4 linked regions of the Homo sapiens genome follow. The protein of the gene in region 3 purifies or fractionates together with the protein of the main gene of each other region. This does not show direct contact. Each region holds a gene or a part of one and is shown on either strand. Other genes may lie near its edges. The genes, in order: MEGF8, TENM3, PSG8 and ACOT9.

Evidence for each region.
Region 1: the proteins of PSG8 (region 3) and MEGF8 purify together in Homo sapiens (co-immunoprecipitation; 3 studies listed by BioGRID and IntAct, with this or other methods). This does not show direct contact.
Region 2: the proteins of PSG8 (region 3) and TENM3 purify together in Homo sapiens (affinity purification with mass spectrometry; 2 studies listed by BioGRID and IntAct, with this or other methods). This does not show direct contact.
Region 4: the proteins of PSG8 (region 3) and ACOT9 purify together in Homo sapiens (affinity purification with mass spectrometry; 2 studies listed by BioGRID and IntAct, with this or other methods). This does not show direct contact.

The regions. Positions count from the first base shown.
Region 1 is NC_000019.10:42,328,623-42,335,656, reverse strand, and holds part of MEGF8 (multiple epidermal growth factor-like domains protein 8 isoform 1 precursor), read right to left. Parts: intron 2,053-7,034; coding exon 1,889-2,052; intron 1,651-1,888; coding exon 1,444-1,650; intron 623-1,443; coding exon 442-622; intron 361-441; coding exon 272-360; intron 1-271. UniProt on the Homo sapiens protein: Acts as a negative regulator of hedgehog signaling.
Region 2 is NC_000004.12:182,799,379-182,803,535, forward strand, and holds the end of TENM3 (teneurin-3), read left to right. Parts: intron 1-217; coding exon 218-973; 3' UTR 974-3,646; downstream 3,647-4,157.
Region 3 is NC_000019.10:42,762,649-42,769,746, forward strand, and holds the start of PSG8 (pregnancy-specific beta-1-glycoprotein 8 isoform a precursor), read right to left. Parts: upstream 3,031-7,098; 5' UTR 2,934-3,030; coding exon 2,870-2,933; intron 1,634-2,869; coding exon 1,268-1,633; intron 1-1,267.
Region 4 is NC_000023.11:23,740,243-23,747,272, forward strand, and holds the start of ACOT9 (acyl-coenzyme A thioesterase 9, mitochondrial isoform a precursor), read right to left. Parts: upstream 3,035-7,030; 5' UTR 2,903-3,034; coding exon 2,883-2,902; intron 1-2,882. UniProt on the Homo sapiens protein: Mitochondrial acyl-CoA thioesterase. Catalyzes the hydrolysis of acyl-CoAs into free fatty acids and coenzyme A (CoA), regulating their respective intracellular levels. Regulates both mitochondrial lipid and amino acid metabolism.

The sequences.
Region 1 (7,034 bases), 430 kb from region 3:
AACACAGAAGCCCAAAAGTCAGACAGACGAAAACAGAGACAGATTGAGCAACAGGAGACACATGGAAAAATAAGATGCACAAAGGCAGATAAAGGAAGAGGAAGAAGAAAAAAGAAAACCGGAGAGAAAAGGCAGAAACAGGGAGAAGTAGGTTCCTATATCAAGCTGCAGGAACTGTGGGAGCACTAGGTGATAGGGGATCATTCCGGGGGTCCCCGGCTGGGTCTGATTGAGTGGAAAGGCTCCTCCAGGGCAGAGGAGGGGTCCATACCGGGGCAGGACTCAGGTCCCAAGACTCCCAGGTGTTGGCGGAGAAGTTGTATAGGACGAGGTCACCCAGGGCATTGTTGAGGTCCTGGCCTGTGGAGGGGTGGATAGTCTCATGCCCTGGCCATAGGCTGCCGGGCCTCCAGATCCCAGATACTCGCCCCATCTGCTCACCTCCGAAAACTGCCAGCAGCCCTGGTGGGGACAGGAAGGCGCCAGCTGCCCCAATACGGGCAGAGAAGGCAGGGTCCCTGGCACTCACGTTGTGCCACCACCCAGCCCCCTGGTTCTCCCACAGGTGCAGGTCACAGGCACGTCCCAAGAAGCCAGGCTCACAGCGGCATGGTCCCAGGGGCTGCGGGAAAGGAGACATAAAGGCAGAGATAAGAGAGGGAGAGACAAGGACAGAGAGACAAAGGAGACACAGAGAGGAAAAGAGGCAGAATGAGACAGACAGGGCACAAAGGGAGAGAGAAAGAGACAGACAGGAAGGGAGAGGATGGAAAAGGAAAGAGAGAGAGAGAAAGGGAGACAGAGAGAGACAGGAAGAGGGGAAAGGCAAACTGTCAGACAGAAACAAGAGACAAAGAGAAACAATCAGAAGGAAGCAGACAGACGGAAAAAAGAAGACCAACAGAAAAAGGAAAAGATGCACAGAGAAAAAGGAGAAAAGACAGAAAGACGGCAGGCTGGGAGAATACAGACAGCGTAGTTGACATTCAGCCTGGACTGAAAGAGCTCAGATCTGGGGAGGTCAAGGCGGGGAGGGCTCAAAGCGCAATCCAGATTGAAAGCTGGATGTACACAGCTTCGGCGTAAGGTCAGTGGTGCGAGGCTGGAAGTCATGGCAGGGGTCCAAGGCCACACAGAGTGGCTGGATGGGAGGACAGATTTGGGCCTGGCTGGAGGAAGGAGGGTGGTGTTCACAGATGAGAGTGGGGTATAGATGAGAGTGGGATATCCTCAGCAGGGGAGGCCCTGCAGGTGAAGGTGGGGTGGGGTTGGAGTAACAGGTGAGGGGCAAGCTCTGGAAGGAGAGGGAAGTGGGTGTCACGGAGGAGGGTGGGGTGGTGGGGGGAGTTTCATGCAGGAGCAAGGTCAGACCTAGGAGATGGGCGTGGAGGCTGCGCTCACAGATCAGGGCCCCAGGGGAAACAGGGCTGGGGACCGGCTCACCGAGGCGCAGGTGCCGTGGCTGCCACAGTAGGCTGAGCACTCCTGCAGGCCACAGTCAGGACCCCCCCAGCCCGGCTCGCAGGCACACACACCCGGTGGCTGGCACTGCCCGTGGCTCTGGCAGCCACCCGGGCACAGGGAGAAGCGGAATGAGGCGTTAAAGCCCAGCAGGTTGTAGTTGGCATCACTGAAGAGGTGCAGCAGCATCTGCGGGCACAAGGTGTGCTGGGTAAGGTGGGCAGGGCCTGGGGATTGTCCTGGGAGGGTGGCCCACTCCTGCCCCCTTCCACCCTGGGGGACCCAGAGCCTCATCTCCTTCCTTTGCCTCTCTCCACCTTCCCTTGTCCCTGTGCTCTGCTCTTGGATGCCCTCTTACTGACTCTCTGTCCCTCCTTTCTTCTTCCATTTCCCTCGGTGTATCTGCCACGGCCCCATCCCCACTAACCTTGCCTGAGGAAGCTTCGATGGGCGGAGGTCGGGTGCTCCCACTTAGACTGGCAAGCAGCGGCCCTCGCGGGGAGTCACCGTCATACACGAACAGGTAGTCATACGTGCACTCTGTGTCCAGGAAAAGGAAGTCCAGCAGGATCCGGTGCTGGGGGCTTGGGGCTGGGAGGTGAGCACAGAGGGACCAAGCTCTAAAGCGGACCTTCTCCCCACACCTCCCTGCAGCCTCCCACAATTGTACACCAAACCCTGATCCAGGTGATGCTGGGGGCTCAAGAATGAGTCAGACCTGGGCCCCGCCTTGAAGGGGCCCCCAGTCTCATAACCTAGGGCAGTCAAGGGCTGTGACAGCCAGAGGGACAGGAGCCCAGAGAAAGAATCATAATATTCCAGACCTCTAGAAAGGTCACCTGAGATCAGAATGAACACTCCCACCATTCAGATGGGAAAATTAAGTACAGAGAAAACCCCATCCCAGTGGCCACACAGAGCAGAATCCAGTGTTCCTGATGCCTCTCTCTTCCTGTCCATGCCTGAGTTTCAGACATGTCCAGGCTGGAGGGTCAAGGTCATAATCCCAGTGAGAAGAGCACCTCCGTGACACCACCCCTGGCCCACGCTGAATAGAGCTGCAAGAGAAGAGTCCAGCTTCTTCCCCCAGAACAGAGGCCTAACCTTGGAGCGGCATAGTTCCCCTCTGTCCCCATCCAGAGTCTCACCTCTGCTTATTGTGATGGTTACAAGCACAAACTCTGGAACCAGACTGCCTGAGCTTATGTCTTGGCTCTGCCACCAAATAGCTACCAGCTGTGTGATCTTGGCCAAGTAACCCACCCCCTCTGGATCGGTCTCCTCATCTCTAAAGTGGGATATAGTGGTACTGTGGTGGAATCAAACTTATAGGCCACTCCTGCCATTGAAAGTTAATTCCCTGCCTCTCGTATCTGGGAAGAGCCTTAGTGACTTGCTTGACCAATAAAAAAACAGCAGAAATTCTGAAACTTCCAAGGCTAGATCATAAGAAGACTTGTACTTTTCACCTGGGCCTCGTAGAATGCTCCTTCTCAGAACACAGCTGTCATGATAGGAAAAGCCAAAGCCGGCTGGGCACGGTGGCTCACACCTGTAATCCCAGCACTTTGAGAGGCCAAGGCAGGCGGATCACGAGGACAGGAGTTTGAGACCAGCCTAGCCAACATGGCGAAACCCCGTCTCTACTAAAAATACAAAAATTAGCTGGGCATGGTGGCGGGTGCCTGTAATCCCAGCTACTTGGGAGGCTGAGGCAGGAGAATTGCTTGAACCTGGGAGGCAGAGGTTGCAGTGAGCCGAGATTGTGCCATTGCACTCTAGCCTGGGGGACAAGAGCGAGACTTCGTCTCAAAAAAAAAAACAAAGAAAAGCCAAAGCCACAAGAAAAGGCCACACACAGGCATTCCGGCTGACAGTCCCAACTGAGCTTCCAGCTGACAGCCAGCATCAACTGCCAGCCCTGGGAGGGACCTTCCTGGATGTCCAGCCAAGGTGAACATTCAGCTGACTGCAGCCCCAGCTGACATCTGACTGCAACCTCATGAGGAGCAATAATGCACACGAAATGGTGACAACAGAGTGGGGTGGGTGGCTCACGCCTGTAATCCCAGCACTTTTGAGAGGCCAGGGCAGGTGGATCACCTGAGGTCAGGAGTTCCAGAACAGCCTGGCCAACATGGTGAAACCCTGTCTCTTACTAAAAAAAAATACAAAAATTAGCCAGGCATGGTGGTGCAAGTCCCAGCTACTCAGGAGGCTGAGGCAGGAGAATTGCTTGAACCCGGGAGGCAGAGGTTGCAGTGAGCCAAGATTGCACCACTGCACTCCAGCCTGGGCGACAGAGGGGACTCAAAAAAAAAAAAGAGGCTGGGTGCCGTGGGTCACGCCTATAATCCCAGCACTTTGGGAGGCCAAGGTGGGTGGATCGCTTGAGGTCAAGAGTTCGAGACCAGCCTGGCCAACATGGTGAAACCCCGTCTCTACTAAAAATACAAAAAATTAGCTGGATATGGTGGCACATGCTTGTAATCCCAGCTATTTGGGAGGCTGAGGCAGGAGAATTCTTGAACCCGGGAGGCAGAGGTTACAGTGAGCTGAGATCATGCCATTGCACTCCAGCCTGGGCGACAAGAGTGAAACTCTGTTTCAAAAAAAAAAAAAAGAAATGTTGACAATGGGGCCCACATATCGTGGAGAGTGCCACTACCCCTAACACTGTCACTGTCTTATTCTCTGCCAGTCCTAGTTCAGGTAGCCTCTCTCATTCCACATCCCACATGAGAAGCCTTCTGAACAGGCAGCTCAGGGGAGTCCTCTGGGTGAGGGAAATTAGGAGGCCTAGGCTCTGGCTCTGGCTCTGGCTCTGCCCATGACCAGCTGGAGGACCCTGGGCCAGCCCTTTCCCCCATGACCCTCAGTGTGCCTATCTGGATCCTGGAGACACTCAGCCACCACTGCCAATGGCTGGGTGATCCTGGGCCAGTTCCATGGGCTCTCTGAGCCTTAGTTTCCATGACTGTAAAATGGGGATAATTCCCCCCACCCACAAAGGCTGGGGTGAACATTCAACGAGGTGATGACTCCAGCCTGCCAGCTTAGAGCCAGAGTGTGCCCTGGCTGCCCGGCCTCATCCTGTCTCACCAGAACCACTGATCCAACCTCCTTCTTCCCCTGACATGAGTCTCTGATCTTCCCAACTCAACATCTGGCCCCGTCCCTCCCCTGCCCCAAAGCCCTGCATGGCTCCCTACCACCCTAGGAGAAAGTCCAGGTCCCTAACCTGCTGTTCAGACCCTCGCTTTGTCTCAAATCACCCCACTGCTTACAGCTCTAATGGGAGCTGGGCCTTTGTACAAGCTTCTCCCTCTGTCTGCAACATATTATCCCTTCCCACCACCAGGCCTCTTCCTGATGCCCCCTAGCTGGGTTAGATGCCCCCTCTCCAGGGTTCTCACATCCCATTATAACCTTCATTCCTCTGGGCCAGGAACATCTATGTCCAGGTCTGTCTCCCTGCAGCCTACAAGGCCCATAGAGCAGGGCCTGGATGTGGACCTAATTCCCTCTGCAGCATTGCCCAGACCCGGGCTTGGCAAAGGCTCAGGAAATGCTGGATGATGAAATGAAGAAATACATAAAAGACAGAATACTAAAGCTGGAAGCTCTCCCTCAGGCTCTAACCAGAGCCCCCAAGACATCAGACACAGACCCCACCCATGCTTTGGGGAATGCAGAAGAACCATTCAGCACGGCCACACAACCAGACCTCCCAGAATCTTACCAGCCTCAACCAAACTATAAAGCTCTGTTTCTGGAATCACAAGTACATCTTTGTTAAGTGCCTGCTGGAGGCCAGCTCACCATCTGCCTCCCCAAGTTCTTCCCTAAGTTGAAGGTCTTCTGTTTCCACCCAACCCCCATACCACTCCAGACAGAAATCTGATCCCAAACTCCCTCCTGCTCAAAAGCAGGATGCCTCTTATCCATGAGGATGTTATAAGGACTAGGACTGGGCTGGGCGTGGTGGCTCACGTCTGTAATCCCAGGGCAGATCATTTGAGGCCAGGAGTTTGAGACCAGCCTGGCCAACATAGAGAAACACCATCTCTACTAAAAATACAAAAATTAGCCCGGCATGGTGGCACATGCCTGTAATCCCAGCTACTCAGGAAACCAAGGAACAAGAATCACTTGAACCTGGGAAGCAGAAGCTGCAGTGAGCCGAGATCAAGCCACTGCACTCCAGCCTGGGCAACAGAGCAAGATTCTCTCTCGGAAAAAAAAAGTCTAGGACTAGATAAAGTATGAACATAATACAAAAGTTAGTAGGTTGGTTGTTTATCTTTTTTTTTTTTTTTTCCCTGAGACAGGGTCTCGCTCTGCTGCCCAGGCTGGAGTATAGCAGCGCAATCTCGGCTCACTGAGACCTCAGCCTCCTAGGCTCAAGGGATCTGCCCACCTCAGCCTCGCCGGTAGCTGGAGCTATAGGCACATGCCACCACCCACCAAGCCCAGCTAATCTTTTGTAATTTTTTTGTAGAGACAGTGTCTTACCATGTTGTTCAGGCTAGTCTCTAACTCCTGGGCTCGAGTAATCCTTGCATCTCAGATTCCCAAAGTGCTGGGATTACAGGCATGTGCCACTGCCCCTGGCTGGTTGTTTATTTTATAATAGATAGAGGAAGATGTTGGTTCTTATAGGTAAGAAGTGACAGGCATTGGTAAGAACAGAAGATCATCAAGGGGGATCTGGAGGTCTCCCAGCCTCCTCCCTCACCCCAACATCTACCCAGTTGGTCCCCAAGTCTTATAGGTGAAACTCCACAAACATCGATTGCACTGTCTACACCTCTCCACCCCTCTAAGCCCCTGCCCTAGTTAGGAACTCATCCTCTCTTGCCAGATCAGCTCATCAAGTCTCCAGTCTGCCCCACACCCAACCTGAGGGCAATGCCCTACTCCTGCTCAAAACCTCCTGTGGCTGCCCATCAACCCCAAGGGGAAGGCCAGGCTGCTCAGTGTGACATTCAAGGCCCCTCTTCCCCTGCTTCTGGCTCTCATTACCTCCCAGTCAAAAGTGCCATAAGACCAGGCAAACCTAGATGGGGATCCTGAGACACTCCAGCCACCCTCACGTCTTCATAGAGGCTGTTTGCTCCCTTTTCCCACTCAATAAACTCCTATGCATGCTTCAGAACCCTATTTTAGTGGCTCCTGCTCTGTTATCTGCAGCACAGTCCTCTTTCCTCCCTAGGTACATCCACCCCACCCCTCCACTTTCCTTCTTAGCCCTGAGCACTGTCTCAGTGAACACACTGGGGGCTGAATATCTGTGTCCAGCCCCACCATTCCCAACCAGTCTGAGACGTTTTTTCTTTTTTTTTGAGGTAGAGTCTCGCTCTGTCACCCAGGCTGGAACCACAGATGTGCGCCACCACGCAGGGCTAATTTTTGTAGTTTTAGTAGAGAGGGGGTTTCTTCATGTCGGCCAGGCTGGTCTCTAAAGCCTGACGTCAGGTGATCCGCCCCACTTGGTCTCCCAAAGTGCTGGGATTACAGGCGTGAGCCACCGCACCTGGCCTAACCAGTCTGGGACTCTTTAAGGCCAGAGA
Region 2 (4,157 bases), on a different chromosome or scaffold from region 3:
TGAGTGAGCCATTTGGGGGTTCCAGAGCATCGGGATCACCTTGAGGGGGAGGGATCTCGAGTGCTCCCTCCACCCGGGCTGTCAGCCTTCTGGTCAGGGAAGGACCCCGGGGCTTCCATGCATGCCCCGGCGCTGCCCCCAGAGTCCCGTGTGTGGGTCAGGAGTGGGGAGGCTCCCGGCCGCCTCTGACGCGCCCCCTCTTTTGTTTCGCCCGCAGCCCATCTTCGGAGTCCAGCAGCAAGTGGCGCGGCAGGCCAAGGCCTTCCTGTCGCTGGGGAAGATGGCCGAGGTGCAGGTGAGCCGGCGCCGGGCCGGCGGCGCGCAGTCCTGGCTGTGGTTCGCCACGGTCAAGTCGCTGATCGGCAAGGGCGTCATGCTGGCCGTCAGCCAGGGCCGCGTGCAGACCAACGTGCTCAACATCGCCAACGAGGACTGCATCAAGGTGGCGGCCGTGCTCAACAACGCCTTCTACCTGGAGAACCTGCACTTCACCATCGAGGGCAAGGACACGCACTACTTCATCAAGACCACCACGCCCGAGAGCGACCTGGGCACGCTGCGGTTGACCAGCGGCCGCAAGGCGCTGGAGAACGGCATCAACGTGACGGTGTCGCAGTCCACCACGGTGGTGAACGGCAGGACGCGCAGGTTCGCGGACGTGGAGATGCAGTTCGGCGCGCTGGCGCTGCACGTGCGCTACGGCATGACCCTGGACGAGGAGAAGGCGCGCATCCTGGAGCAGGCGCGGCAGCGCGCGCTCGCCCGGGCCTGGGCGCGCGAGCAGCAGCGCGTGCGCGACGGCGAGGAGGGCGCGCGCCTCTGGACGGAGGGCGAGAAGCGGCAGCTGCTGAGCGCCGGCAAGGTGCAGGGCTACGACGGGTACTACGTACTCTCGGTGGAGCAGTACCCCGAGCTGGCCGACAGCGCCAACAACATCCAGTTCCTGCGGCAGAGCGAGATCGGCAGGAGGTAACGCCCGGGCCGCGCCCGCCGAGCCGCTCACGCCCTGCCCACATTGTCCTGTGGCACAACCCGAGTGGGACTCTCCAACGCCCAAGAGCCTTCCTCCCGGGGGAATGAGACTGCTGTTACGACCCACACCCACACCGCGAAAACAAGGACCGCTTTTTTCCGAATGACCTTAAAGGTGATCGGCTTTAACGAATATGTTTACATATGCATAGCGCTGCACTCAGTCGGACTGAACGTAGCCAGAGGAAAAAAAAATCATCAAGGACAAAGGCCTCGACCTGTTGCGCTGGGCCGTCTGTTCCTTCTAGGCACTGTATTTAACTAACTTTAAAAAAGAAAAAAAAATGTGTACAGTGTTTCCAAATAGTCCCGAATTGTCGACCTTTGCTTACAAGAAGTAGTCTGTCTGCATAGGATGTGATAGCTATCTCTGTTCATTTTACAATGTGGGGCAAAGTTACTGTTTCTAGACAACCCAACTGCTTTCCCTGTGCAGCTTTGTAGAAGGACATTGGCACAGTGACTTCTGCGGCGGGGATTTATTAATGGATTTTACAATGCTAACGTGGTTTCCCTTCGGGGAAAAAACTGGCAACTAGAATCCTTGTCACTGATAAGCAAAGGAAATCCTGATTTTTTTGTAAATTATGTGAGACAAGTTGTTTATGGATTTTTATATGAATTACAATTTACTGTACATCAAATCTTAGTCTCAGAGGAGTTAATTTATGTAAAGTGTTTAAAAATTTATACTTAAAAATAAAATGATAAAAACGTGAACTGTGTGATTTTTTTAAAAGGATTGCACCTTTTGTTATCTGTTATAGCTGTACAGTATGAATTATTATATTGTAGAGATATAACAACTTATGCCTATAATGTCCAGAAGTGTTAATATTTTTGTATTAGGTTGAAAAAATGTGCAAGCTTCTATCACTAGATGGATAGGACCGTGCAATTCTAGGTGGGTGGCGAATCAGAGAGCTCCTTTCTCTTCCCTCTCTCACGCATCAGGCCAGTGTCCTCAGCATTGTCAACTGAGAGGCACAGTAGACAACTAGGGCTGGTGGAATGTAAGGGAAGAAGATTGAAAAAACGGGAGGAAGGGTTCTCTGGCCCTCTCTCAACCTTGCAAGTCAATGGGGAGTTGTTGATATAATTAACCCCGAGGTTTTTACTGTTACTGTTCCAAAGCTCTGTCTCTTGATGGAGGAGAGACCACATCAGATGCTGGGGAAATAGGAGGAGGAAAGGTTCTGATGTAGTCGTGATCCTAAACACGTGTCTTAAGATCTAGGAAAGACAGCAGAAACCGAGCAGTGGTGGGTGAGCCAGATGGAGCCGGTCAGGGTTACTCTAAGCCCACATGACCAAACCATCTTGGGGGGCTGGTTTGAATGACAGCCTCTGCTCTGTCTCGGGGAAGCCGGGGGTGGCAGATCCAGCTGGAAGTGAACTGACAGCCGCGCCCTCCTGCACACATGCATGCACGCGTGTGGGAACGAGCCCAGCCGCCATCTGCACTTCCGTGTCGGCTCAGCTCTGACAAATCTCTTTCCTGAGCACTAAATTCAGCCACGAAAATATTTTTAGAAGATATTTCTCAGTTCATCGAGCTATAGTACACACTGTTTTCCTCTATGTATAATGGTGATAAAATATAGCAAGTGAACATGTCGTAAATATAAAGGTTCAAGTGATGTATTGAAAATAATTTTCTAACTGCTTTGTATGTATCACATACTCTAAATTGCACAGTAGGCGTGTTTATTAAACAGATGATTGGCTGGGAAAGTTTCAAAATAGCTACTGAATTTACAGTATCAGTGCTATTACTGTCTTTGTGTATTTGGTAGAGCATACCGAAGTAATTAATCTTCTAATGAATGCTGATGATATTTTATTAGAATGAAAGCACAGATTAGCATTAATATTTTTTATTCTGGAAATCCTTTGGCAAGTATTATGAAGCCCAAATTTAGAAAACTATGAGATTTCAAACCACATAAACATGATTCTGTTTTCCATTTTATTTTTTAACTGTTAGGTATTTGCAGTTCTGTTCCGTGGAACTTCTGCAGGCCTGTATTTAGCATGCTGTAAGTACTTTTGGGTGAAATAGGCTCTGAGTCTAAATTCTCAGACATGTTTCTGATGTATTACCATGAAAAGCTTGTGCCACATGACAGAAGTGAGATCATAGTCTTAACCTCTTCTTGACGTGGACTGGTCTTCACTCGGGCACCGATAAATAACAGATTTGGAGTATCTCCTGGTGCTTATTTTAGATGATGAAGTCAAATCAACCCAATTAGTGTCCTGTTAGTAGGTATAATGAGCCTATTTCTTTCTAAAAAGACTTGTGATCTGGACATGCTTTTACAAGAAATAGTGACCTTGGGGAATATGTAAACAAAAGACCTTTTTCTAAGAGTTGGGAGGGGGTGGGGGACTGTATAATGAAAAGAATTAGCTTACAAAAAAGAAATTGATATTCAAAGTATTTTAGGCAAAGCCAGTCAAAATGCTTTCATGATATTTTGAGATGTAAATTTTGTCTGATTTGTATTGTTCTTTTCATTTGCCTTCTTAACTTTATATGTGACCTGAATTTTCCATAACTTGATGACTATAGATTGCACCTAGGCATTCCAATAAAAGCCAACCCAATGTGTGTGTGTTTTTATATTTTTTCAAGTCTTGGGCTAGCCAGCATTGCTTTTGTGTTTAACGTGGAGGACGCAAATAGATGCAGTTGTTGGGGAATTGATTCATCTGCAACCCAGTTGGTAGTATCTTTTTTTTTTTTTTTTTTGTCCATTGGCCAGACTGCTGGCTCAGCAGAGTGAACTTCACAGGGGACTCTCCCATGGCCTACTTTAGAAAAACAGTAAACACACCCCCACAAAGCCAAACACGCTAACTGTAAAGAAGAGTTTACAAAAATACCACCCATTACTACTTGAGAGCAGGCCTCATTCCTGTGATCCTGGCAATAAGTGTGCTTAATTAAAACACTTGATTAGAATAATCAGTTTGGGCCTGGTAGGCTTGCAGCCTCCTGGAGATGTCTAAATCTACATATAGACCGGCTGATTAGAAGATGCTTAGTTCAGCAATTCTGGCCGGCAGGCCAGGGCTTTGATTTTAGTCGGAAGAGGCAGACTTCATCACACTTGCTTTCT
Region 3 (7,098 bases):
TGACATGGACACTTTGGGAAACACAGGATTTCAGGTTCAGTGATGGGGGCTAAGATCTGAGGGGGAGGCCTGGACATGTTTTTTCCACTGACTCTGATGGTTGAGGCAGGTGATTTAGTTCTGGAGTACAGACTAATCAGTTGACCATTTTCTCTCACTCCTCTGAGGTTTGGATGCCTAAGAAGAGAGGTTTTGAGCCAATAAATGACTATGGGGTGCTTGGAAGCCAGTGAGCCCTCACTTCTGGTGGAGGAGAGGATGAGCCTGTGGCTGCGGACACACCTCATGTGACCCTGATCTCCCCTTTGTGATTGTGTGACTCTGGCTCAGGGACTGTGTCTTCCTGTACCTCAGTTTTCTGTCAATCAGATAAGCTAAATGGCAAATGGACAGTGGCTTTTCATGCTATCTGTGAATAAATGTTAAATGATTCACAGTCACCTGACCTAATGCTTGGCACAGTGGAGGTTTCACACAAATAGCATTTATTATTAATTTGCTTCCATGAGAAAGCCCCTTTGCGTCAGATCCCTGTGGGCAAGCTGCTACCAGGTACATCTTCTCTCTTGTGTTTCTGCTTCTGGGGACATTAGACTTTCTATGGACTGGCCTAAGCCTCCTAAGGCAGTTGTCTGATGGCCTACAAAGCTTGTCTTTCTGTCCTCTCCACTCTGAGTGTCAGGTGAAGAAAACTCTGTCCTTGCCCAGATGAGGCTCTGAGGGCTGAGCCCTGGCTGGTGAACAGCTCCAGGAGACACAGTCCTCTGACAGCTGGTAAATCCTCGGTCCCAGTAAGCCCTGCCCAAGAAGCCACAACCCAGCCCCAGCACAGGCTCCTCAGATTTATCTGGAGCAAGGATTTAGGGACACTGTTCTGGGGGTGAGGCTTCTAGGGCTGAGCTTCTCTGAGAGTATCTCAGGGGCTCCTCAGGCCAAGCCCTACTCAGTTCTCCAGGGTCTTTCTCAGGGTCAAATTTATGAAGAGGGCATGAGGTGCTTGTCTGAGACTGATCTCCTCCTGCTGAGTCCCCCCATCAGACTGTCCTTCCTCTGCAGCGAGTGTCTGCAGGGTCTGGATGCGGGAAAGGAATTCTGATCTGTTGAAATTTGTCTCCTCTGTGTGTGTCCTGCACTAAATGCCCAAACCCCAGCATGGGACATAATGCAGAGAGGGACACAGGCAATGTCCAGGCCTGACAATCCTGTGTGTGTGAAGTAGAAGTGACCCCTGTCCCCCAACACCCAGGGATCATGTGGAATCACTCACGATATAAGGTGAAGGTGAAATGTCCAGTTACTCCTCTATTCTCATCACCTCCCATTATGATGTGTAAGGTGTAGGATCCTGCGTCTTCCTGGGTGACATTCTGGATCAGCAGGGATGCATTGGAATATATTGTTTCTCGTCCACTGTATGCAGGCCCATATATAATTATTTGACCGTCTACTACATATGATGTAATGTAATGGTAGAGGTCCCTGATTTGCCCTTTGTACCAGATGTAGCCAGTAAGATTCTGGGGCAAATTGTGGACAAGTAGAAGAACATCCTTCCCCTCAGAAACTTTGGTTGGCTGGGCTTCAATCGTGACTTGGGCAGTCGTGGGTGGGTTCCAGAAGTTTAAAAGTGATGCTAGGAGGTGGAGAGAGCATCAGTCAATATTGAGAGCTATGTATTGGTGTGAAAACATGGGGCCCTGGGTCCTGAGAAGTTCTCTTCAGTCCTCAGCCTTGAAGACACAGACACACACACATACAAACACACGCACACACACACACAAAAGCGGCATGTGTGTCTGTGTGTGTGTATGTGTGTGTGTCCTACTATCCTACTAGGTCAAGGTCAGCCCCATGACCCCCATTCCTTCAACACTTCTGACCTTGGCATTTTTCTGTTTGCAATCCTCTTCCCCAGGGGTCCGCATGGCCCCCTCCACACTGCCCTCAGGTCCTGCTCACATCAGGGCATCCTTAGATTTCTTTCCTGACACCTCCTTCAGATACCCTGGGTCTTCCCTTTCTGACCTTTCCCTGCTCTGCTCCCTCCAGGGTTCTTCTCAACACCTGACCTTACATTCTAGATCTCTTTGCATGTCTGTCTTCCCCTCCATGACAGCGTGAGCTCCATGAGGACAGGGATTTTTGTGATCTTGGTTGCACCCCAGTGCCCAGAACAGGCTGCAGACTCCTGTAGATGTGAGAGTTCTCAGGGCCCTCCACGCCCTTGGTGTTTTTTTTTCCCCCCAATTGTTGAGGTTTCTTGCTGAGGACAGTGTTTCATGCCCTGTGTATATTTTTATGTGAAGTGTCATCTGATACAGTTATTATTATCATATTTCAAAATGTGGTGGCCCCTGATGATTAATCAGGAAAACAGAACACAAGATTTTCCTACCTCTTACCAATTCTGGTTCCTGTGACTTTCCTGTTTTGACCCCTGTCCCTCTCTGGTGTATTTCCCCCTATCCAGGCTCCAATAGAGCCTTCTTTCCTTTTTCTCTTTTTTCTCTTTTTTTTTTTTTGAGATGGAGTCTCATACTGTCTCCCAGGCTGGCGTGCGATGGCACTATCTCAGCTAGCTGCAACTTCTGCCTCCTGGGTTCACGTGATTCTTCTGCCTCAGCCTCCCGAGTAGCTAGGATTAGAGGAGCACACCACAATATCTGGTTAAATTTTTGTATTTTTAGTAGAGACAGGGCTTCACTGTGTTGGCCAGACTGATCTTGAACTCCTGATCTCATGATCCACCTGCCTCAGCCTCCCAAAGTGCTGGCTTCTTTCATTTTTTAGTACCCCATACTCTCAAGGAGACCCCATCCAGTCACTCTGCTTCCTCCTCCTGTCCTCTCCCAGGAGGTTCTCTCCTCACCTGTGAGCAGGAGCCCCTTCCAGGTGATGCGCTGTGTGCAGGGAGGGGCTGAGAGGAGCCCCATGGTCTCTGCTGTCTGTGTGTTCTCCTCTGTGGAGATGAGCCTAGGATCCAGAAGCTTCCTGAGCACAGCTCTCAGCAGTGCTGTCCTGCCTCCTTCTGCGCTGAGCTTCTTCCCGGGGCAGGAGCACCTCTCAGGTTCATGGGCGGGGTCAGGCCCAGGACACCTCTCTGTCCCCTCCTCTCTCAGTCCTGCCTCCTTGTCCCTCCTGTTTTTCCTTTTGTCTGTGTTTCAGGTCCCTGGGAATTGTGGAGGCCTCTGCCTTTTTCAGCAGTGATTCTTTCACCAAACCTCAACACACACTTTGTGCAGACACACACACACACACACACACACACACACACACACACACACACACACACACACACAGAAGGACACACACAGACCTACACAGTCAGAAACATACCCTGCAGGTTGGGCAAGCAGAGTCCTGGGCCTCAGCCTCCTGCTGTCCCCATGGCTCTGGGTCGGGGTGCACATTCATGCCCTTTGGCCTCTTTCATCCCCATCTGGCTCTCCCCTTCAGTGCAGGAGGCTGGAGCTGCACCAGGTCCCTGTCACAGTGACACCCCATTGTGCTGTGGGTGAGCTGTGTGTTGCCTGGTGAGAGGGACCCTTCCTTTCTCTAATCGTGTCTAGCTTGGCTGCAGCTTCCAAGGATGGACACTCAGGACCTGGGTGTCCCAGAGGAAACTGTCCTTCCTGGAGGTGTGCAGGGTGAATCTCTCATGTCTCTTGGGAGGAGAGGCCTGTGCTGGTTGCTCAGTGGGGGCTGTGAGTCCCATAGTCAAAGGGACAGTTCTCGGTCACTCTGTGACTCCGTGGGGTCTGGCCACTGAGCTGGAGCTCAGGGTTTCTCATGTTCTTCCTGACCATCTTTGATGTCCTCTCTTCTCTGCCCAGCTGATTGTCCTGTGGTCACCACACCTTCCCCGTGGTGGTGCAGGAGGAAGTGGGGAGTCACCCAGGAACCCCAAGGGAGATGGCTCGTTGAGACGCAAGAGGGTGTGCCTGGGACAGAGCAGGGGTTCAGAGCTGGAGAGATTCATCTTGACTTACTCCGTGGCCATGATGGGCTCAGCCCTCCATGTGCCGACATACCCAGGGGTCTGTCCTGAGGGTTTTGACCTGGCCAAGCTGCTGTGTGTAGAGGAGGAACAGGCAGTGGCCAGAGAGCCTGTCTGGAGGGACCTTGCTCACACCTGAGGGGGCGTGTGGGGGTGAGTTGTGTTCTGGGAGCAAAGAGCAATAACATCCCGCTTCTCCCTGCAAGCGCACAGGAGAGGTCTGCCTTCCCAAGGGACAGCTGGGGCAGGTGGCCACATCCCGGATGGTGCCTGTGTGTGACCATCACACGCACTCTGAGCACCCCGTGGTGCAGCGGGCAGGCAGGTCATAGGGTGCCTGGCTGATTCCCGGGGAGGCTGTGGGCCCTTAGGCAGCTGCTGTTCTGTGTCAGTGCTAGGCTTGGCCTGGGATGCCCCAGAGAACAGGATAGATGGGGCAGGGGCGGGCATTTAGGGAGCAGTGACAGAAAGAGTTGATGAGGATGGAGGGAGGCCACGAGGGGAAAGCGCCTAGTGTGGCGTCGCGTGCACCAGCGCTGCCCTGGGAGATGCCTTTAGCTGGGCCCAGGGAAGGAGCAGGTGTGTGGGGAGGAGCTCCCTGCAGAGGGAGTGGTGTTAGGTTGGCGGCCACCAGGTCAGGGTGGAGCTGGCAGAGTCCGTGTGGGGAGCATGGAGGGCGCTGAGGACTTGGGCCGAAGTGACCCTGGTGAGGGTGGACCCTGCTGGGCTGTGGGTTCCGCTGAGTGAGGTTGGCATCCCCTGGGAAGGCTCCAGGCTGGGAGGGACTCTGTCCCCCTCTGGTGGACAGGGAGGGAAGTGTGAACGGCAGCAATCCCAGGCCAGGCTGCATGTTTTATTCCACATGGATCTGCACACTTCACACGAGGTCACACATATGTTATGTTACAGCTCCTTCACCTTCCAGCCCCGTGAGTCCCAGTCTGTGTGGCTCTATGTTCACTGTTCTCCCTCTTTCACAATCAGATGTCCCAAACGCAGATTTTTGTCACCTTCTGTGAGTTTGTGTTTGTGTGCAGTAGGCGGCACTGTGTATACCCTGGGGGCAGTGATGTCTGGGGCTGAGCACTGCAATTGGGCTTGGAAGCAGAAGAGGGAGCAGCAGGGTGGGAAGATCAATGTCAGGGGGCAGGGACAAGTCATTTTCATTTTCTTACTCCCAGGGACCAGAACCCTGGATTCTGACTCCAGGGCACAGTACCACACCCTGCTGGTGTCCCTGGATGTCATGATGCTCATAGTGTCATGTTGTCTTGGCATTCATTTTTATAAGGTGTAAGTTTATTTGCCTCAAATCAGAGGCAGGGCTTGGTCACCATGGCAGTTTTCAATACTGTGTCTGGTTCAAGTGGCTCCAGTTGGTGTCCAGAGATAAAATCTTAGAGGCATCTCTGCTGCTTGGTGTGCTGGGTTTCCCTCTCTCCAGCTGCTTTCTTTAAACTGATAATTCTGACATTTGCCCTCACATTTAAAGTGACCACCTCTCAGTCACAGCGTGAGCTCCTGGTCCCAGTGTTTGCTGCTTGCTTTGAACACATCCATTAAAGCTCCCTGCTGGAAACCTGTCAGATAACACCCTGGACTTAATAAAGCCATTGGCTCACCGGTCTCTTCTCTCCTCCCTGTCTGGGCTCACTGACCTCTGTGTCTGTGGTCTCCAGGTTTGCCGAGTGCTTCCTAGTGTCTGTAAGTAGTAAAAATACTTACATTTTCACGTTGTGGTTGTATTATTGTAGCCTCACATGCCATCCAGGGCCTGACATTGAGGCTGCCTTATGGGACCTGTGCTGGTTGAGCCCCTGCTGGAGCTCTTGTTTTGGGGCGTCTGGTTCTCCTGGGGACAGGAGCTTCCAGCTAACTTGATTGAAAATCTGATGCCTTTCATTGAAACACTGGGTCAGATGATGTATTCATGGGCTTCGGCTGCCATAACAAACACCTTAGCCTGGGTGAATTAAATAATAGAAATCTATTTTTCACAGTTCTGTGAATAATGTGCTATTGTAACCACTTTAAAATGCTGAATCAAATGAAATTAACCACATACACAGTGTTAAATTACCATCACCACTATTTTTCCTAGAAAATTTTTATCATTTTAAACTGAAACTTTGTATCTTTTAAACAATAACTCCCTGTATGTTCCACCCTAGACCTTGATCTTCTCTACTCTGTCTCTATGAATTTGCCTGTTCTTGATGTTTCATATAAATGGAATTATACAATTATGTTATTTTGTTTCTGACATATTTCACTTAGCATAATGTTTCCAAAGTCCATGCATGTTCCAGCGGGTGTCAGAGCTTCATTCCTCTGTATGGCAGATTAACATTCTGTTGTATGTGTCACCATATTTATTTATTTATGTGTTGATGAGCACTTGAATTATTTTCATTTTTTTCTTTTTTCTTTTTCTGTTTAATAGTGTTTTTTTTATCATTATTATTCTTATACTTTAAGTTTTAGAGTACATGTGCACAATGTGCAGGTTAGTTACATATGTATACATGTGCCATGCTGGTGCGCTGCACCCACTAACTCATCATCTAGCATTAGGTATATCTCTCAATGCTACCCCTCCCCCCTGCCCCCACCCCACAACTGTCCCCAGAGTGTGATGTTCCCCTTCCTGTGTCCATGTGTTCTCATTGTTCAATTCCCACTTGTGAGTGAGAATATGCGGTGTTTGGTTTTTTGTTCTTGCGATAGTTTACTGAGAATGATGATTTCCAATTTCATCCATGTCCCTACAAAGGACATGAACTCATCATTTTTTATGGCTTCATAGTATTCCATGGTGTATGTGCCACATTTTCTTAATCCATTCTATCATTGTTGGACATTTGGGTTGGTTCCAAGTCTTTGCTATTGTGAATAGTGCTGCAGTATACATACGTGTGTATGTGTCTTTATAGCAGCGTGATTTATAGTCCTTTGGGTATATACCCAGTAATGGGATGGCTGGGTCAAATGGTATTTCTAGTTGCAGAATCGCCACGTTGACTTCCACAATGGTTGAACTAGTTTACAGTCCCACCAACAGTGTAAAAGTCTTCCTATTTCTCCACATCCTCTCCAGCACC
Region 4 (7,030 bases), on a different chromosome or scaffold from region 3:
ATTACAGCTGTGCACCACCATGCCCAGCTAGTTTTTGTGTTTTTAGTACAGACAGGGCTTCACCATGTTGACCAGGCTGGTTTTGAACTCCTGACCTCAAGTGATCTGCCCGCCTCAGTATCCCAAAGTGCTGGGATTATAGGCGTGAGCCACCGCGCCTGGCATGTAATGGTAACTTTTCACTACATTTGGTATCCTATTTACTGATAATCTGATGGAAACTGTGGACCTCGAGCGGGCGTGGGAAGGGTTGGAATACATTTTTGCTCACACACACAATGGTATATACTATTTCAGGAGGTGCACAGACCCTTTTTGTACCCTCAGATCCCCCTATATTTGAAGATTCTGATTCAAACCAACCTCCTTAAGAAACTGAGGCCCCAGTTTCAGACGACTTTCCCCCAGTGCCAGTCAACAGGCACACCAGCAGAGTCCAGATAGAGCCCAGTTCTTCCGATCTCCCCCAATACATACACACACACACACACACACACACACACACACACACACACACACACCGCACTGAGGTGGAGGAGGTGGGAGAATGGTTTTAATCAATACTCAACACTTCAGTACCTCAGGGTTACTGGCTTATCTCCTGATAAGCCCTCAGGAGTCTTACTTATAGCAAAACCTCTAGGCCTTTACTGTGGAGAGGCCTTTGCAACACTCAAATCCCAGGACCTTGTAACTGAACCTTTCCAATCAAAGGAGATCAAGAAACTCAAGGCGGGGGGAGTGGGGAGGGACAGCATTAGGAGATATACCTAATGCTAAATGACGAGTTAATGGGTGCAGCACACCAGCATGGCACATGTATACATATGTAACTAACCTGCACATTGTGCACATGTACCCTAAACTTAAAGTATAATAATAATAATAATAAAAAGATGATTATTACAAAAAGACAAAAGATAACAAGTGTTGGTGAGGATGTAGAGAAAAGGGAACCCTCGTACACTATTGGTGAAAATGTAAACTGGTACAGCCATTTTGAAAAATAATGAGGCAGTTCCTCCAAAAATTAAAAATATAACTACCATATGATCCAGCAATTTCTCTTCTGGACATATATCCCAAAGAAATAAAAAAAGTATTTCAAAGAGAAAAAAAAAAAAGAAAACTCAAGGCCTCCATGGCCTACCTGGGGAGTCACATAACTCACCCTGGCTCAGCCCTGGGTCCCAAGCTTACAGCAGTTGGCAAGGAAGAGTGTTCAGTGCAATAACAGGCAATACCACTCATATGCCCTCCACTCTGAGGAAATAACCTCTATTTAGAGACTAAACAAAGGTGCCTCTTGCAAGTCTAAAAAAGAAAAGAAGCTACAAAGGTTGCCCACCAGTCAAAGAACCTAATCATCTCAGTCTATATTCATTTGTGAACTCCTCCTCTCACTAGACACTAAGAGATTATCCGCTTAAGGTTCAATAGTTTTTTGTTTGAGACAGAATCTCACTGTGTTGCCCAGGCTGGAGTGCAGGGGCGCGATCTCAGCTCACTGCAACCTCTGCCTTCCGGTTCAGGCGATTCTCCTGCCTCAGCCTCCAAAAGTAGCTGTGACTACAGACATGCACCACCACTCCCGGCTAATTTTTGTATTTTTAATAGAGACGGGGTTTCACCATGTTGGCCAGGCTGGTCTCGAACTCCTGGCCTCAAGTGATCCATCCACCTCAGCATCCCAAAACGCTGGGACTGCAGTCGTGCACCACCACACCCGGCCTCAATAGAATTTTCAAGAAAGGAACACAGGGTTATAAGAGAAAGCACCTGAACAAGACCATGGAGCTTTTGTAGAAGACCTTTCACATTGCAAGCTAAAGTCAACTGTGGCCCCTCTCATAATGACTTTCAGTCTGCCTTCAAATAGTTTAACAAAGGTTTTTTGTTTGTTTTTAAGTACTATAAACAAGACAGAACCCTTACAACTGATAACAAAGTCCCCAGGAACAGTGAGTGAGTGAGAGAGAGAGAGAGAGAGAGAGGGAGAGAGAGAGAGAGAGAGATATCCAGGACCCCCAAGAGAATTGATGGGGTTAATGTGAGTCAAAAGCACTATGAGTCACATCAGGGGGACAGGCCCACTGGCAGCGAGATAACTTCAGAAACTGGAGCAGGTGTGAGCCCCCTGGGATGCAGCCAGGCAGAAAACTTGGAAAGGGTGGCATGCTCGGGTGAAAGGGATTAGGGAGAGCTAGACACGCTCTGGAGTCTAAGGCCCTCAGGCCTTAACTGTGCCAGCTGGGAAGATTACATATACAAAAAGGCATCCTCCCTTACCCACGTGGCCCAATCAAAGCACCCAGCCTCTTATAAGGGCTTTGCGGCTCATTAAAGTTAAGTTCAAATTGGCACCAGGGTCCTAGACGCACAGTCCTAGGGTCCTGGGAGCCAAAAGGTACCCTGTAATCTCTGCCAATGTTACAACAAACTTAAGTAAGAGCCGAAGTAGGTCAAGCATTTAATCCTAAAAATGTTCTCCAAAGGAAGATGAAGGGCTAGAGGTAACATAGAACTCCAAATATTATCTTTCTGACAAGGGGCTACCCCGACGCGGCTACCAACCACACCCCGGATGAGCAAGGCCAAAGGAATTTTAGGGAACACCCAACTTCCTCCCTTAAAAGTGCTGCTTTGCTTTTAATATCAAACTCAGTGCTAGAAGTCGCCAAAGTGGGGGCGAGGTTCTCCCAACCAAAGGCCGGCGGGCTTATGTCCGGTCGGAGGTACAGTGGGCGAGCGCCCCTTATCATAGAGCCCAAATGCCCATGCGTGGCCCACTTCTTCCGCCGGGGCCAGCCCGAAGCTCTAGGGGAAGACGATGGCACCCCAGGCTACCGCCCTGCCAGCCCCTTCCACGCCCCGCCACCTACCGCAGTGCTGCCCGCCTCATTGCGCTAGGCTGCCGTGCGCGCGATGGAGAACCGGGCCCCGCGCGCTAGTCGGCGGAGGGAAACTGAGGCGATAAAAGACGCACGAGTACCAGACCGCGCCCTTGCTGAGGACAGCCCGGGAGCCGGACAGCGGTGTCCGGGGGCGGGACCGCGGCGTCCAGGGGGCGTGGCCGCGCTGTGCCGGGCGGACCCTACCCGTTCATTGGCGGGAGGCTGGAGTCCGCCTCTGCGGAGCTTCCCACTCAATCAGTTGTGCGGGTCGTGTTGCTACAGCGAGGACCGGCCTATTCTCGGTTGAGTAAACGAACCACGCAGCAACGCCAGGGCGTGACGTCGAGAAGAGGCCCGGCTCTGCCTAGTGGAGCTTGTCTCCTTTATCCTTGATCCCCGCGCCTTGGCTCCGTCTGTTCTTCCCCTTGGCTGCACATTGGAATCTCCTGGGCAACTTTCCAAAATACTGATACTTGGCCGGGCGCGGTGGCTCACGCCTGTAATTCCAGCACTTTGGAAGGCCTAGGCGGGCAGATCACCTGAGGTCAGGAGTTCAAGACCAGCCTGGCCAACATGGCGAAACCCTGTCTCTACTAAAAATTCAAAAATTAGCCAGGCGTGGTGGCAGACGCCTGTAATCCCAGCTACTCGGGGGACAGGCACGAGTATCGCTTGAACCTGGGAGGCGGAGGTTGCGGTGAGCCGAGATCGCACCACTACACTTCAGCTTGGGCGACAGAAGGAGACAATGTCTCAAAAAAAAAACAACAAAAAACTGATGCTTGAGACCCACTGGCTGGAGATTCTAGTTTAGTCCTGGGTGCGGTCTGGGCTTCGGGATGATGTCTAAAGATGCCCCCAGGTGATGCTAATGTAACCAAAGGCTAAAAACCACTGACCTAACAGGAAAAAATTGTTCCTCTCCTCTTCTCGGCCTGACCCCCAATGTTTGATATCTTGGGCGAGCTAGAGAGATTCAAGGCCAGAGAGTTTAAGATTATTTCACCCTACGATCTAATTCTCCATTTCTTTCAACGAATTATTATTGAGCTGTTTGCATTGTGCCAGGCACTATTGCAGAGGTTGGGGTTGCAAAAAGAAAAAAGGACAAAAATCCCCGCCCTTAAGGGGCTTGCCTCTTGATAAGGAAGGAAAACAAATCAACAAACAAGTTAGCAAATAACATGATCTCAAATATGGTAAAGCGGTTTAAAGGGGAAATAAGGTAACGAGTGGGGATCTTTTGAGAATATAAGCAAGTCTTGCTTTGCCTCTAAATACGGCAATTTCCTAAAAGGCAAGGGCCATATGCTTTTTCGCAATACCCCATACTTAGTAAAAATGTATTGATTTGAATTAAGCTAGCTTTCTGTTTTGAATCACTTCATGAGTTACACATGGAGCATGGTCTTCGGCTTTCTCTTTCTACTGAATTTTCCCTGCTTTTATCAATCTCACATCTGGAAGACTCCCCTTTTAGCCTACAAGGATCTCTCCTTCATTTTTGTTCACATTGTCTTTTCATTTTTGTCACATTGTTCACATTGTTCACAAGTCACTTTTCAGTGATTGTCTTGTTGGTTTTGGGTCAGCCATATTTCTTTATACTCTACCACACCTAACACAGAGGGCAATAAATATTGTATTGAATTATGCTATTTTTGTTCTTCTTTTTACTTGAACTTTTCTTTGAAGCAATAGGAGGCTCAGGGAGAAAAAATAAGTACAAGAGAGAATTTTTTGTAAATGGTATAATAGGTAGGTACAGTTTATAGTTTTTCCCGCAATCAAGTCGCCTTCCGTCAATTTCCAAATTATAAAGACACATTCTCATCAATATAATAAACACCATCGATTTTGGCTGGAACAGCTGAAACCAGGGACTTAATGCCATGCAGATGCCTTCTCTCTATTGCTTATCTTTGCTTTCCTTTGCATACTGGCTTCATTCTTTTTTCTCTCTATGTAATGACATTCTCCATATGGCAATAGAAGCTCCTGAACTTTACATCTTACAACCACAGCCACACACATACAGACTGACTGAAATTTCTACGGCCCAAATACAAAAAAGTTCTGAGAAGAGATTCATTGGTCCAATTTGGATCAGGTACACACTCCTGGACTAGCCAACTGTGGCATCAGGGTAAGGAACCCTTGCCCTGACTTACCAGGAACCCCCTCACCCAGACTCATGGCCAGGTACTGGGTCACAATCTACTAACATGGTTATTTCTGTAAGTAACTGTACAGATGGGGATACGGAGCACCTTCTTAGAAAAGGAGTACCGAGGCCGGGTGCGGTGGCTCACGTCTGTAATCCCAGAACTTTGGGAGGCTGAGGCGAGTGGATCAACTGATGTCAGGAATTCAATACTGGGCTGGCCAACATGGTGAGACCCCTGCCTCTACTAAAGATACAAAAATTAGCTGGCTGTGGTGGTGGGCGCCTGTAATCCCAGCTACTCGGGAGGCTGAGGCAGGAGAATCGCTTGAACCTGGGAGGCGAAGGTTGCACTGAGCTGAGATCGCGCCACTGCACTCCAGCCTGGGCAAGAGACTCCATCTCAAAAAAAAAAAAAAAAAAAAAGAAAGAAAGAAAAGAAGAGGAGTATGGAGCAGCCAACCACATAGATGTCCACTAGAAGGTTAAAGAGGGAAAAAAATGATCACATCACTTAGCCCACCTACCTTAGTTGTAACTTCAGGGAACCCCTGCTAGACCTAGCCTGCCCAGCATTCATCCACGAGTCTCTAACTACCTCAATTGGCAGCATGCATAAAATTCTTAAAACAGCTTAGCAACTCTGATTTCTGTGTGTGTTGTTGTTGTCGTCATTATTATCAAGCATATATGCTATACCACATTTTGGATAGCAGAGAAGGAAGGGGAAATGGTCACAAAATCAAAACAGGAAACATACAACAATTGTATAGTGGTGAGAATCACCGTCCTTAAGTAACAGGTTCTCTACCCAACCTTTTTGTTTCCTGTTATGTTCTATTAGTTCTATTTTAATATGGTCTCAGGATAACAGAGATGGTATCAATTGTGTAATTAAAAGTTACTTAATCATGCACTGACAGATACATAAGATATTAATGTCGTTATTACAAGTAAAACAATAAAATCAAATAACAAGGCTGGAAAGCAGTATCCCAGCACTTTGGGAGGCTGAGGTGGGTGGATTGCTTAAGAACAGGAGCTCAAGACCAGCCTGGTCAACAGAGCAAGACCCCATCTCTACAAAAAAAAAAAAAAATTGTTTAAATCAAACAACAAAACCTAACAAGGCATTGTCAGGTCTTCTTCTTTTTTTTTTTTTTTTTTTTTTTTTGAGACAGAGTCTCGCTCTGTTACCAGGCTGGAGTGCGGTGGTGCGGTCTCAGCTCACTGCAACCTCCGCCTCCTGGGTTCAAGCGATTCTCCTGCCTCAGCCTCCCAAGTAGCTGGGATTACAGGCACGTGCCACCACACCCGGCTAATTTTTGTATTTTTAGTAGATATGGGGTTTCACCATGTTAGCCAGGCTGGTCTTGAACTCCTGACCTCGTGATCCTCCCACCTTGGCCTTCCAAAGTGCTGGGATTACAGGCGTGAGCCACCGCGCCCGGCCAAAGGCATTGTTAGTTCAATCTAGTATTATGAGTGAAAAATATCCAGTTACCATCTTTCCTTGGGCTGCTGAATAATATATACTTTTGGATATCTGATTTAGGTAGAAAATGTTCCTGGAAAACTGTCATCAACTTTCAAACAAAGTGATTCGAACTACGATTTCATTAGGACACAGAAACTTTTTAAAAATATATCTTATTTCCTCAATTATTCAGATTATACAAAAGGATCCACAATAAAGTTAGGAGGGGAGGGCCAGGCACGGTGGCTCACGCCTGTAATCCTGGCACTTTGAAGCTCGAGGCAGGCAGATCACCTGAGGTCAGGAGTTCAAGACCAGCCTGGCCAACATGGCAAAACCCCCATCTCTACTAAAGGTAAAAAAAATGAGCAGGGCATGCTGTCGCGCGTCTGTACTCCCTGCTACTTGGGAGGCTGAGTCAGGAGAATTGCTTGAACCTGGGAGGCGGAGGTTGCAGTGAGCCGAGATGGTGCCACTGCACTCAAAGCCTGAGCG